Homo sapiens: one gene and its partners. The protein of the gene in region 4 purifies or fractionates together with the protein of the main gene of each other region. This does not show direct contact. Each region holds a gene or a part of one and is shown on either strand. Other genes may lie near its edges.

Evidence for each region. Proteins that work in one complex are often made in the same cells at the same time.
Region 1: the proteins of FAM118B (region 4) and DCPH1 purify together in Homo sapiens (affinity purification with mass spectrometry; one large-scale study listed by BioGRID and IntAct). This does not show direct contact.
Region 2: the proteins of FAM118B (region 4) and CYRIB purify together in Homo sapiens (affinity purification with mass spectrometry; one large-scale study listed by BioGRID and IntAct). This does not show direct contact.
Region 3: the proteins of FAM118B (region 4) and CCDC102A purify together in Homo sapiens (affinity purification with mass spectrometry; one large-scale study listed by BioGRID and IntAct). This does not show direct contact.

Annotation. Positions count from the first base shown.
Region 1 is NC_000006.12:151,462,466-151,465,965, forward strand, and holds part of DCPH1 (damage-control phosphatase ARMT1), read left to right. Parts: intron 1-1,987; coding exon 1,988-2,153; intron 2,154-3,500. UniProt on the Homo sapiens protein: Metal-dependent phosphatase that shows phosphatase activity against several substrates, including fructose-1-phosphate and fructose-6-phosphate.
Region 2 is NC_000008.11:129,845,561-129,849,060, reverse strand, and holds part of CYRIB (CYFIP-related Rac1 interactor B), read left to right. Parts: intron 1-2,186; coding exon 2,187-2,257; intron 2,258-3,500. UniProt on the Homo sapiens protein: Negatively regulates RAC1 signaling and RAC1-driven cytoskeletal remodeling. Regulates chemotaxis, cell migration and epithelial polarization by controlling the polarity, plasticity, duration and extent of protrusions.
Region 3 is NC_000016.10:57,526,572-57,530,071, reverse strand, and holds part of CCDC102A (coiled-coil domain-containing protein 102A), read left to right. Parts: intron 1-652; coding exon of another isoform or gene 653-806; 5' UTR 807-894; coding exon 895-1,479; intron 1,480-3,500. Other genes in the region: ADGRG5 (adhesion G-protein coupled receptor G5), read right to left, coding at 653-806.
Region 4 is NC_000011.10:126,214,782-126,218,281, forward strand, and holds part of FAM118B (protein FAM118B), read left to right. Parts: intron 1-3,500. UniProt on the Homo sapiens protein: May play a role in Cajal bodies formation.

The sequences.
Region 1 (3,500 bases), on a different chromosome or scaffold from region 4:
TTTTTATGTTTGTGAGACTCATCCATATGTTACAATATAATTATAGATCATTCATTCTCATTGCTTTATAATATTGCATTTTATGAGCATATTACAATCTGTTTACTTCGTTGTGATGGATATTTGAGTACTTTTCAGTTTGGAGTTGTTAGGAAGAATGCTGCTATAAACATTCTGACACTTTTTTGCTGAACATATGTATGAATACATCTGTTGGATATATCCCTCCCTAGAAGTGAATCACTGGGTCATAGTGTGTGTACATACACAGCTTTAGTAGATTCTAAAATAGAAAACATTCTAAAATGAGAATTTATATATAGTTATGTGAGTTTACTCTCTTAAATACGAAAATAAGGCTCATTCTTAATATGAGATGTGACTTTAATGAATGGTTTGTTAATAAAACATTAGAACATGTTTTATTAGAACTTTCTGTAAAGGGCCAGGTAGTAAATCTTTTAGGCATAGGGGCCATGTGGTCTCTGTTGCAGCTGCCGAACCTGCCATTGTCGTGTGAATGCAACCTTAAATAATATGTAAGAATGAGCATGGCTGTGTTCTAAAGAAACTTTATTCAGCGGACACCGAAATTTGAATTTCATGTGTTACAAAATACTACTTTTCTTTCACTTTGTTTTCAGCCATTCAAAAATATAAAAACCACTCTTAGCATGTGAGTCAGACAGAACAGGTGGTGGGCCGGATTGGGTCTGTGCATCCGAATGATTTTTATCCTTTTAAGTCACCTTGAGAGACTGACTGATTTCAGCGGTGCTGCCATTGCTAAAACCATCTTTGAATTATTTGGAACTTCTTTCAGAGCCAGTTTACATGCCTCAAAATGAAAATTAGTCTTCCTGTATTTTTACTCATTTTTGATTAAAAAAAAAGTTTTTATCCAATTTGATCACACACCTCATTCTACTGAAATCACTCCGAGTGACTTTTGGCTGTTTCCAAAAATAAATTGACTCCAAAGGATGAAGATATGTGATCACTGACAGGAGGTTTAATGATGTGCCATAGGTTCTGAAGAAAATTCCTAAAGAGGAATTCCAAAAGTGCTCTGAGCAATGGCAGCGCCCTTGGAATAAGGGTGTAGCTTCCCGAGGTGACTGACTGGCTGGAAGGAGGCAGCCATCATTTGGATGTTTAAATACTGGTATGTTATTTAAAAAAACAAAACAAAACAAATCAAGCCGATTACATCAGTGTTAGATTGTTTTTACCCTAACATGAATGACCCATGGAAAAAGTAGCTAATTTGGAAGACCCAATAATCTGAATGTCTTTTATATTCAATTCAGTAAAGATTATTATATTAGTATTTATATCTCCTTAGTTATGATTTTCTTAGGCCAATATAATATGATTTAATCTCTCACTGGAAAACATGAAGGTGTAGCCATGCCACATATATCACCTTTGGTTAAAGTTGCCCAAAAATACCTAAAATTAGTGATAAAAAATTATCATTCTTCTAAAACTTACAATAGTATTGTCTGATTTATCTTAAGTACTCATTGTATTTCCATCATACTCTGTGTTTCATTCTGTTAATGATTGCTGCATTGTATTCAAATATTCTGTTTATATTCTATACATTTGTTACTGGAACTCTGCCACATCGGTGGTTAAAAAATGTTTGTTGAACTAAAGCAGTTGTCTTGAAATTTATCTTTCTCCTTCTTGTGCCCTGGAATCCCTGCTAGGTAGATAATTATGAGCATAGTCACTATCACTATTTAATATGTCCAGAAAAATACTTGATTTGGGAACTTTTTTGACAATTAAAATGAGTTTGAGAGATTTTTGTGTAATTTGATTATTTAGTATTAAGTTTTTCTAGTTAATTAGATAAATGTTATATCTAGTTTCTGTTAGCACTGATTATTGAGACTGTATGGTGCTATTTTCTTTCAAGAACTGCAGTTATCCAAATGTACAAACTAAAATGTTTCACTTTGTTTTTCTCCTACTTTAGTCCACCAATCGATTACTTTGATGTATTTAAAGAATCAAAAGAGCAAAATTTCTATGGGTCACAGGAATCCATCATTGCTTTATGTACTCACCTGCAACAATTGATAAGAACTATTGAAGACCTAGATGAAAATCAGCTGAAAGATGAGTTTTTTAAACTTCTGCAGGTAAATGTGATCATTAATCTTCTGAGTATGTTTTATTTAAACAGAAAATAAACTGCTATACAGTTAACAAAACATGTAAATATTTTTCTTTGCTATAATTGATGATTTTTTATCTAGTGGTGTTAAAAGATGAAAATCCATTTAATTGCTAGAAATGGGTTTGAAATATTTTTCTGCTCTCACTGGCTATGATTTTAGTGGCAAAGAAGTTATCTGACTTCCTAGCTTCTGTCATACTTGAGAGAATACTTCATAGTAATTTGCTTAGCTTTTGTCATGCTTGAAAGAATTCTTAATAGTAATTTGGTCTCCCAGCTGACTTGGGTGTGTGTTGGCTCTGTGGCTAATTTGTGTTTGGACCTGAGGCCTGTCACTTAATTTCTCTGGGCCTCAGTTTCCTCCTCTGTTCAGTGAGGATAATGTGTACTGTGTAATTTGATGTGAGAATTCAACTAGATGCTTGCATGTGAAGTGCTGAGCACAGAGCCTGGGATACAGCCTGCTGTTAGCATCGGTAGGTGATAATACTCGGGTATTCAGTTGGCCCATTAATACAGTTTCATTACATTTCTTTATCTTGTATTCAGTTTAGTTTTTAATTCATGCAAACATCCTGAAATTTACAACACATTATTAGAATCAGAACTATTAGGAGACGTGGTACACAGCAGTATCCCCAGCCCTCACATTTTCCAGAAAAAGTGAGGAAGACTTTCAAAAAGAAATGTTAGAAAGTGCTATGAAGAGAAATAAAGCAGGAAAAGGGCGTTGGGAATGTTGGAGAAGGGATCAGGGCTGCCAGGGAAGGGTCCATGGAGGCTGAGGCCACAGACCTGAAGGCAGGGAAGGAGTAAGTCAGGTGTATGTCTGCGGAGTACATGGAGAGGTGAGAAAAATTGCAAGGAAACCCTGTAGTTACTGAGAGGTAGCGGGGTGGAAGGGACACAGAACGGCTTGTATTAAATAAATTTTTACTAAAAGTGAAACAGAAGCCATCAGAGGGTTTTGAACAGAGAGGTAATGCTATTTGACTATTTCAAGGAATGTTTCTGAGAATAGACTGCAGGGGCTGAAGGTGGAAATGGGGAGAGCTGGTCTGAAAATGACTTGGGGAGGGAGGTTGGGGCCAAGTTGGTAGCATAAGAGTTAGTGACATCACCAGAGCCTGGGTGTTCTTTGAACATAGAAGCTACAGAACTTGCTAACAGATTATACCTGGAGACGAAGCCCTGGTGAGACCCCGAGGGCAAGCAAAGTCACAAATAAAGGCATATTTTGAGTTCAAAACAAAAATTGTCAGGACATTGTTTTGTTTTTTGAGACAGAGTCTCGCTCTGTTGCCCAGGT
Region 2 (3,500 bases), on a different chromosome or scaffold from region 4:
GAATAGAATGATCAAAGGATGACTATATTGTCTAGTGAGTACCTCCTGGAAGGCTTCTACTACGTATTTGGCAATATAAATAGATAATTAGATATAAGGAATTTTGAGTCATATCCTTTAATTCCTTTGGCCAAAGGCCATTTCAAATAAAATGTTTATTTCAGAATGCATATAAAAAGTCAGTAGTGCTGCTGGGCGTGCTGGCTCATGCCTGTAGCCCAAGCACTTTGGCAGGCTGAAGCAGGAGGATCACTTGAGCCCAGGAGTAGAAGACCAGCCTGGGCAGCATAGTGAGACCCCCATTTCTACAAAAAAAAAAAAAAAATTAGCCAGGTGTGGTGGCACACATCGGTAGTCACAGCTACGTTGAGAGGCTGAAGTGGGAGGATCCCTTGAGCCCAGGAGTTCCAGCCTGCAGTGAGCCACGATCACACCACTGCATTCAGTCTGGGTGAGAGAGAGACCCTGTCTTGAAATTAAAAAGACAGCCAGTAGGATGCTCCAGTGGAAAAAGATGAAGACTTTATGTATTTTCCCTCCCCTACCTAGTCATAATAATTTGTGACTATAGTTGGCTCTCGACTTTTCTTCTCTCTGTAAAAGTTTGTATTAGAAATAGTTTTCTAATTTCTCTACTTCGTAGTTTCTTTCCCCAACCTCTCACATCTAGTTCATTAGTGTTTGGTGAGAATTGTCTTCCCGTTTCCCTTTCATAGCTAGTTTAGGCTCTTAGCATTTCGGATCTCGATTACTGATTACTAGCCAAGCTTGTTGCCTTCATGTACACCTGTCATATGTAAAGAGAAATGAGTTAATATTTACTGTATGGTTGCCATGTCCCAGGAATTTTACGTTTGTTCTCCCTTGTGACTCTGAAAATACTCTTTTAGGTGTCATCTCCCTTTACTGACAGGGCAACTAAAGTTTAGCAGATCAAGTAATAGAATTGCTAGTAGGCCGGGTGCAGTGGTTTATGCCTGTAATCCCAGCACTTTGGCAGGCCGAGGCAGGCGGATCACCTAAGGTTAGGAGTTCAAGACCAGCCTGGCCAACATGGTGAAACCTCATCTCTACTGAAAAAAAATACAAAAATTAGCTGGGTGTGGTGGCACACATCTGTAGTCCCAGCTACTCGGGAGGCTGAGGTGGGAGAATCGCTTAAATCCAGGAGGCAGAGGTTGCAGTGAACCAAGATTGCGCCACTACACTCCAGCCTGGGTGACAGAGCGAGACTCCATCTCAAAAATAAAAAGAGTTGCTAGAAAAGGTAGAACCCACATTTCTCTGGCTTCCAAAGCCTGTGTTCTTTCTGCTGTATTATGCTTTTTTATAACAACCAGGCTAATATATCTTAAATACCATCGTCATCAAGTGGTTACCTTTTAAAATAACCTGTGAGTCCCCTGCTGCCAGGCATAACACTTCGTATAACTCATCCTGGCTTTCAGCCTCTCATAACTCCAGGTGCAGTGCTGAAAAATTCCTATCTGTCCTCTGTGTGATACTTTACTCTGTGAGGTTTCTCTACCTGAAAGTTCTTCTTTTCCTTAGTAACATACTCATTCTGTCCTTTATTTTTTATTTTATTTTATTTTTTGTGACGGAGTCTCGCTCTGTCACCCAGGCTGGAGTGCAGTAGTGCGATCTCGGCTCACTGCAAGCTCTGCCTCCTGGGTTCACGCCATTCTCCTGCCTCAGCCTCCCGAGTAGCTGGGACTACAGGCGCCCACCACCACGCCTGGCTAATTTTTTTGTATTTTTAGTAGAGACGGGGTTTTACCGTGTTAGGCAGGATGGTCTCGAACTCCTGACCTTGTGATCCGCCCGCCTCAGCCTCCCAAAGTGTTGGAATTACAGGCCTGAGCCACCCTGCCCAGCCCATTCTGTCCTTTAAATCGCCACTCAGCACCTTTTCCAGAAGTCTTCCCTTAGCAAACCGTTTGTTTTTCATTGCATGTGTGGTATATTAGTTTGACTGATTTTGTTCTCAAAAAGATTTTGTTTTCACTAAGTGAGAATAATAACTCTTAGGTTGGGTTTTTTTCTGTTCTAAGAATAATTAATTTGACATAGTATGTAATCTCTTGAGTTCCATAGTTATGGTCTTGATTTATTTTACTATTTTGAAAAGGAATGTTACATGAAAAAAATGGCTGTTTTACCTTTTCTGTTTTCTTTTTCTTTAGATGAAAGGTTGTATCAAAGTTCTTAAGGACCAACCTCCTAATAGTGTGGAAGGTCTTCTAAATGCTCTCAGGTGTGTATATGTACGTGTACGTATGTACAGAAAAAATCTGTAAGGAAAATGGTCGATGTTTATGTAAAGAAAATGCATTAAGTGTGAATAGGATATAAAAATAAGTGTTCAAGCTAGAAATATGAAGATCTTATTTTGTTTATTGATAATCTTGCTTCCAAACACTGGTTACGGTATTTTATGATGAGGAATGTGTGGGACACATGACAATAGCAGCTTCATTTTCTGGTTGAAGATTTTGGCTTTTACTTGTTGCTTCTCTTCAAACAGAGATTGCTTGTTTTTGTAATAAAAGTATTATATACCAGTTATAAATAAAATTCAGAAAACATAAGAAAATGTAAATAAAAAGAAATAATGTAATCTCACCATTTTGAGATAAGCCACTATTAGCATATAGCCTTCCAGAGTTTTTTCTTTACATATATAGATAATAGCTCTATGTAGTAGTTATCTTTTTACAAAATAATATCTTACAAAGTGGCTTGTAACTAGCTCTTTCCTCTTAATAGAATGTAATTACATTTGTGCTCAGACTTGTGTTCTGTTATTTTTATGTATTTCCTACAATAAAAATTAAGTAGTCATTATTTAATGTCTTTTCTTAGATTAGTTTTACTTAATTTAGTTGCTCAAACTTCTACAAATGCTAGAACATTATTTCGTTATTTAGAGTTGGAATCTCGCTCTGTCACCCAGGCTAGAGTACAGTGGCACAATCTTGGCTTATTGGAACCTCGGCCTCCCAGGTTCAAGTGCTTCTCCTGCCTCAGCCTCCCGAGTAGCTGGGATCACAGGCATGTGCCTGTATTTTGTATTTTTAGTAAAGACAGCGTTTCACCATGTTGGCCAGGCTGGTCTCAAACTCCTGACCTCAAGTGATCCACCCACCTTGGCCTCCCAGAGTGCTGAGATTACAGCATGAGCCACTGTGCCCAGCTGCTAGAACATTTTTAAATGAAAATCTCGATACTTTATAACATTTGACTACAGAGATTTAATTGGTAGTATTCACATGACATAAAAGATGATGTCCCATTACTTGATTTTTTGAGGGTTTAAACACAAAAATTACATGAACACAGAAATATTTATATAATGATATTTACCACATAAAATGTAGGCTGTATCATTTCAGCTAAGCGGAACTGTCAAATGATTTTATTAAGATTATGAAAAAATGTTTAAAAATAGTTTTTAAAAGATTATGAAAAGTGTTGCATAAGCGGTAGCTGCCTGAATA
Region 3 (3,500 bases), on a different chromosome or scaffold from region 4:
AGCAAATCCTTACTAGAGTTTGAATTTGTACTCATAGATACCATAAATGGAGGTAATCATTTTCTTCACCTCCACTCTTTAAGGAATAAATGAGATCGTTCACCTAAAGCCCTGGGCACAGTGCCTGGCTTGTGGCCTGCCCTCCACAAATATCATTGTCATCATGTGTTGGGACTAAAACAGTGGTCAGGACCCAGTCCTGGACCACAGCAAACTCACAGCCTTGGTTAAAGGTACACAGCAGACACATAAATGACAGGGTAAGTTAGTGCAGTGATGGAGACACATAAGGGGCTGATGGACCTGGCCTGAAGTGCTCCAGGAGGGCTTCCAGGAGGAAGTGATACCTCAGAAGAGTCTTAAATATGAGAAGAGTTAGCCCAGTGCAGGAAAAGGCAGGGAGGGGACTCCTGGCACCAGCCCAGTGCCCCCGCCTGGGTCCTGTGCGGAAGTTGCATAGTAGTATAGTATAAGCCATCAGTGTGTGAGCCGGGACCGGGAGAATAAAGAACAGATCAAGGTTTCAGATTAGCGCCGCTGGGTGAAGGGATTGGAGCAGGGAGTCGAGGCCACTGAGGAGGCCTTTGCGGGCCCTTGCTCCACCAATCCTGCCTCATTGGGACTCTCCTGGAACAGAACTCTCTCCTCCTACCTTGGCCGTTCTGTTCCCTCCGCCAGGGCCTTGGCGCGGCTGATCTTCGAGACTGACGGTGGTCGCAGTCCAATAACGGTTGTGTTCTCCCGTAGGTCCGAGGAGGCGTCCTCCGCCCGGTGGCCCAGAGGGAAGCGGGGCACGGCGTCATCATGCACAGTTGTATCGCGCCCGCCGCGCGTCCCCGGAGCCGCCCCTGAGCCCGACCGCGAGTTCGAGCTCAGGGCCCGCCCGGCCGCACCATGAGCCACGGGCCCAGCCCCCGGCTGGCCGAGTCCCCGCAGCTGTCCAAGGGCAGCCTCCTGACCATCCTGGGCAGCCCGTCGCCGGAGCGCATGGGGCCTGCCGACTCCTTGCCGCCCACGCCGCCCAGCGGCACGCCCTCGCCCGGGCCGCCGCCCGCACTGCCCCTGCCCCCCGCGCCCGCGCTGCTGGCCGACGGCGACTGGGAGAGCCGCGAGGAGCTGCGGCTGCGGGAGCTGGAGGAGGCGCGGGCGCGGGCGGCGCAGATGGAGAAGACCATGCGCCGGTGGTCGGACTGCACTGCCAATTGGCGCGAGAAATGGAGCAAGGTGCGCGCTGAGCGCAACCGCGCGCGCGAGGAGGTGCGCCAGCTGCGCCAGCGCCTGGACGCGCTCACCAAGGAGCTGGCGGGCGCACGGCGCGAGCGCCAAGAGGCGCAGGGCGAGTGCGAGGCACGGGGCCGCGAGCTGGCGCGGCTGAGGGGCGCCCGGGGGGTCGCCGACCAGACGCGCGACGGCCCCGAGCCGGAAGCGGAGCGCGAGCCAGTGCGTGACGTCGGGTCCGAGAGGCCGCCAGGCAGCCAGGTGCGCGGCGCGGGCGGGGCGTTCGCGCTCCAGTCTCGAAGTGGGCGGGGCCGATTGTCCTGAGCTGCTGGGCTCAGAAACAAGCTAGTAAAGGCCTGGCCTCCTGGAGGTTTCACTTCTCCAGGTCGGGTTCTACCCTTGCGGGGCCTCACATCATTTTCCTTCCAGAGACCTCAGGGTGGAGAATCCCAAGTTCTGTGATCCCTCCACTCCCACACCTGAGAAGTCAACAGAACCAAGGAATCATCCCCTTTGAGCCAGGAGAGGGATCCAGCAACTTGCCTAGAAGTTAGCTGATTCGTAGCAGAGCCGAATCCATTGATTCAATCAGAGCTGAGCGGTGGGAGAAATCAGGGCACTGGGATCACAGAGGAGGTCCCTGACGCAGGCTTCACAGAAGCTTTCCTGGAAGAGGTCACATTTAAGCTGAGACTAGAATGATGAGTAGGAATTAGCTGTGAAAAGTGCCAGGAGGGCAGGACGACGTGGCTCGTACCTGGAGTACCAGCTACTTGGGAGGCTGTGGCTGCGGCAGCAGGATCCCTTGAGCCCAGGAAGTCGAGGTTGCAGTGAAATATGACTATACTGCTGCACTCCAGCCTGGGCAACAACTCCACCTCTAAAAAATAAAAATTAAGAAAAAAAGTGCCCGAAGGCATTCCAGCTGATAGAAACTGCCTGTGCAAAAAGTCTAGAGGCCGAGAGGGCCTGGTGAGTTTGGAAAAAGGCAGTAATAGCAACGGCCGTCATTCACTGGGCGCCCACGCAGCACTTAGCCGAGCATGTGCGTTATCTAGGTAACCCCCACAGCAACCCTCTAAGATATTTGCTCCATGGGGAGGATCCTGAGGCACAGAGAGATTCAGAAGTAAGGGCTGGGCGTGGTGGTTCACGCCTGTAATCCCAGCACTTTGGGAGGCCAAAGCTGGTGGATCACCTGAGGTTAAGAGTTCAAGACCAGCCTGGCCAACATGGTGAAACCCCATCTCTACTAAAAGTACAAAAATTAGTCGGGCATGCTGGTGGGCGCCTGTAATACCAGCTACTCGGAAGGCTGAGGCAGGAGAATTGCTTTAACCCGAGAGGTGGAGATTGCAGTGAGCCGAGATCACACCATTGCACTCCAGCCTGGGCAACGAGAGTGAATCTCCATCTCAAAAAAAAAAAAAAAAAAGCAGCAGCAATGTCTGCCAGCCGGTGACAACTTGCTGGGGTTTGAACCTGGACAATCTGGCTCCAGAGTCCAGGGTAATAATCAGGATGGCTGCTGCATTAACAGTGGGTGCAGAGGGCACCCTCTCCTGAGCCAGCAGGCCTGTTACCAGAAAGCCACCTAGGGGCAGGGTCCAAGCTCAGTTCCCCAGCTCTGTCCCCAGCTCAGTCCCTGGACAGGCCAACTCCTCCAAATAAGACTGCCCCTCCTCTATTCTGCCCAGCCCCCTCCATCCCGTAGGCTAGCGTGGGCACTGCTGCCTCCTGTGGCTGAAGTCCCCTCTTCCCTGGGGTGACCTGGTGTTTGGAGGTGGTGTTCACTGCGCACAATGCTGTTCCTGTCCTATCCTTATTCCAGTTGTCGGTCACAGGCCAGAGGGCTGTGGGCAGTGGCAGGAGCCCTAGGCTTGCAGTCTGAGTTTGTTCTCCAGCCCAGCCTTTTCATGCTGTGGCCCAGAACAAGTCCTCTCTCTCCCTGTTCCCCATTCGTAAAATGGGGCTTTGGACACCTCCACCTGAATAATCTGAGAAACAGAAGAGTAGCTCTCACTCCTCAGGGAGTCCTCAGGGCCACCGCTCCAGTCCAGCTAGGGAAACTGAGGGCCGGGCCAGGAAGAGGCTGGTCCAGACTCATCTGGAAAGGCTGTGGGAGAAGCTGGAACAGGGGCTGTGGTCCTTGTGGGTTTGTGTCAGAGACAGGCCTTGGAGATGGGCGGGGCGGAGAAGAAGGGCAGGATGGCAAGAAGGAAAGGGGCTCGGCCCTGGGTTCCTAATTTCTCAACTGCTTCCTGTCTGGGAGCTGGCTCTCC
Region 4 (3,500 bases):
AACTTGATAGTTTCTTTTTAAAGATATTTCCTAGTCTATTCAGGAACAAAAAGGCTGCATTAGTATTTCGCAAATATAAACAAACAAGGACTAACTAATAAAGGAACTTGCGTTTATCACAAATTTAAGGTTAATTAGTGGTATAAAGTTAAGTTACGCCTCCTCAAACTGTGATTTGCTAGTTGCAGATTAACCAGCGATTCCATTTCCTTGAAGAGCAGGAAGTACTTGGACATTGTTTTATGGTTTTAGAGAGATTAAAGGAGGCAATTAGCAGGAACTCTTGGGAGGTGCCCTGGAAAGTACAGTCATTGGGAGCCAGGAGATGTGGGACTAGTTCCAGTTCAGCCGCTGCGTACTTGAACAAATAATTTGGGCTTCAGTTTTTTGTCATTTGAAAGATTTTTGCAACTCTGTTTCTAGTCTATGAAGATTTTCCACTGATACTGAAATACTTCTCTTTCAGCCCGAATTAGTGGGATTTATTTCAGATTTATCTTGAATACATTTAGCATTGATACTAAGAAACTGGATTCTGCTCTTGTCCCCAGAATTTAACTTTTTGCCACTGAGCTAATGTTTATGTTTGGAGGTTACTTCATTGAGTGGTGTTGGAATATACTTTTAAGATTTCTGGCCAGGCGCGGTGGCTTACGCCTGTAACCCTAGCACTTTGGGAGGCCGAGGTGGGCGGATCACGAGATCAGGAGATGGAGAGCATCCTGGCTAACACGGTGAAACCCTGTCTCTACTAAAAATACAAAAATTAGCTGGGCGTGGTGGCAGGCACCTGTAGTCCCAGCTACTCGGGAGGCTGAGGCAGGAGAGTGGCGTGAACCCAGGAGGCAGAGCTTGCAGTGAGCCAAGATCGCGCCACTGCATTCCAGCCTGGGTGAAAGTATGAGACTCCGTCTCAAAAAAAAAAAAAAAAAAAATGTCCTAAATGGGGGTGGGGTGCATGGCTCACACCTTAATCCCAGCACTTTGGGAGGCCTAGCGGGGAGGATCTTTTGAGCCTAGGAGTTTGAGATCGCCTGGGCAACATAGCAAGACCTCGTCTCTACAGAAAATCACAAAATTAGCTGGGCATGGTGACGCACCTATGGTCCTAACTAACCCTTGAGGCTGAGGTGGGAGGATCATTTGAGCCCGGGAATTCAAGGCTGCAGCTGCAGTGAACCATGATTGCAGTACTGCACTCCAGCCTGGGTGACAGAGACAGACCCATCTCAAAAAAGAAAAAGTAATTTGTGTAATACAGTTTAAAAGTCAAATAGTAATAAAAGATTTGGAATTAAAAAACAGTTTCTCAGGCCAGGTCCAGTGGCTCATACCTGTAATCCCAGCACTTTGGGAGGCTGAGGCAGGTGGATTGCCTGAGGTCAGGAGTTCAAGACCAGCCTGGCCAACATGGTGAAACCCAATCTCTACTAAAAATACTAAAATTAGCTGAGCATGGTGGTGTGTGCCTGTAATCCCAGCTACTTGGGAGGCTGAGGTAGGAGAATCGCTGGAACTGGAGAGATGGAGGTTGCGGTGAGTCGAGGTCGCACCATTGCACTCCAGCCTAGGTGACAGAGCGAGACTCTGTCACCAAAAAAAAACCCAACAAAACAAAAACCGTTTCTCTGCCCTCCCTACCTCAAAGTCCCATTCTTTAGAGGCAACCACTCAGTTGTTTTCCTCTTTTCCTCTGTCTTTACAGTAAGTGGTCAACACCATCAGTATTCTTGAAACATGATATAACAAAACCAGTTTTACCATATGGTTTCTATGGCGTTTTTCTGGTCACAAAAACATACCCAATTTCTAAATAAAGACCCAAACATTTCTAATATGAAACACTGAAACAAGTAAGATTTTCACCCACTTTTTGGTGAGTCAGTGAGTTACTGCAGTCATAGTGGTGGTGGGTTAAATCAAGGAATAAATGTGTGCAAAGTGAAAATTGTCAGAAGCATTTCCTACCACCATACTCATTTCCAAAGCAATCAATCACCAATAGGGCAGGCTCACTGAGAGCTATTGTACCACATCATTTATTGTTGTGCATTTGGATGATTACCATAGACTTTGCAGATTTTTATTTGCTGGTAATTTGTATTCATTCATTTATTTTCCAGCTTAGGCTCACAGGTGGCTGGAGCCTATGCTGGCAGCTCAGGGCACAAGGCAGGCGCCAGCCCTGGACAGGACGCTGTCTATGCCATAGGGTGTGCATGCACACACACACAAACACAGGGACCATCTAGACACACCAGCTAACCTAGCAGGCACATCTTTGAGACGTGGGAGGAAAGCAGAATACCTGGAGAAAACCCACACAGACATGGGGAGCATGCCAACTCCACACAAACGGGTAGCCTCAGCCAGGAATCACTTATTCTCTCATCAATGTTATGAAAAAACGATGTTGAACAAAAAGACTTTTTTTGAGAGTCTGCTGTATCTTCTTGTTGCTAAATAGTTGGTTTGTTATTCTTTCTTGGTTTTCCCCTCATGTTTGGCCTGTTGATTTCTTGTTGTGATAGATTTGTATTTAGCTCTTGCATCCCACCACTTTCCTATTTTTCCATGCCCTCTATCCCCTAATATAGTTCTATTGTAATTTTTTGCTAAAACAGGTAGCTTTTATGTACTTACACCTCTGTCAAATACTGTTCACTGTTGAGCTGGATGATCTATTACAGTGTGTTCCTCCTGGTGTGTAGGTTGGCCTTCACCTGTGTTTTTCATGTACCTACTGTTAATTTTTTTCCCACATGCTCCAATGTATTTGTCACATTCTTATCAGTAACATTTTCTGTGAGCTCAAATGTATCACCTGTTTATTGGAGCCCTGCCCCCTCCTCCTGCCTTTACTGTTGCTCTCAAGAACTGCTGCCTGGGGTCCTCCTGGACCTGCCCTTTCCTGTGCAGGAACCGTATCTTCCTCTTTCTGGGCTTATGTCTTTATTTTTTAAAAGCATATACTTCAGTTATTTCTAAGAAGTATTTGAATGACCTGGTTTTGCCCACACACTTGTTTGATAGTTTGGCAGTTATATAATTCTAGATTGGAAATAAGGTTCTCTCAGAATGTTGAAGGCATCTGTAATTGCTCTAGAGATGTGGTGATTTAAATCCTTCTTACGTGACCGTATTTTGTTTGTTTTCTCCCCTTCTGGAAGCTTTGAGGATATTCTCTATCTCTGGTGTTCTGCAGTTTTATGATGTGTATTAACACCAGGGTATGGGTCTTTTACTCAGCTGTTGTGCTGGCTTCTCACAGACGGTTTTGATTCTGGAAATTCACGTCCTCTAGTTCCGGGATGTTTTCTTGTACTATTTCTGTGATTTTTTGCTCAATCTTTAATTTTTCTTTGATACCTTTTTGTAATATCCATTCTTGTTATGTGGATATGGTGGGCTCAGAGGGCCCGCTGGAGTATTTGAGTTTTCTTCCTCTCTGCACAGGCTCCACTTCCTTCAGGTGATGTGGGCCTTTGCACCTGTGCCTC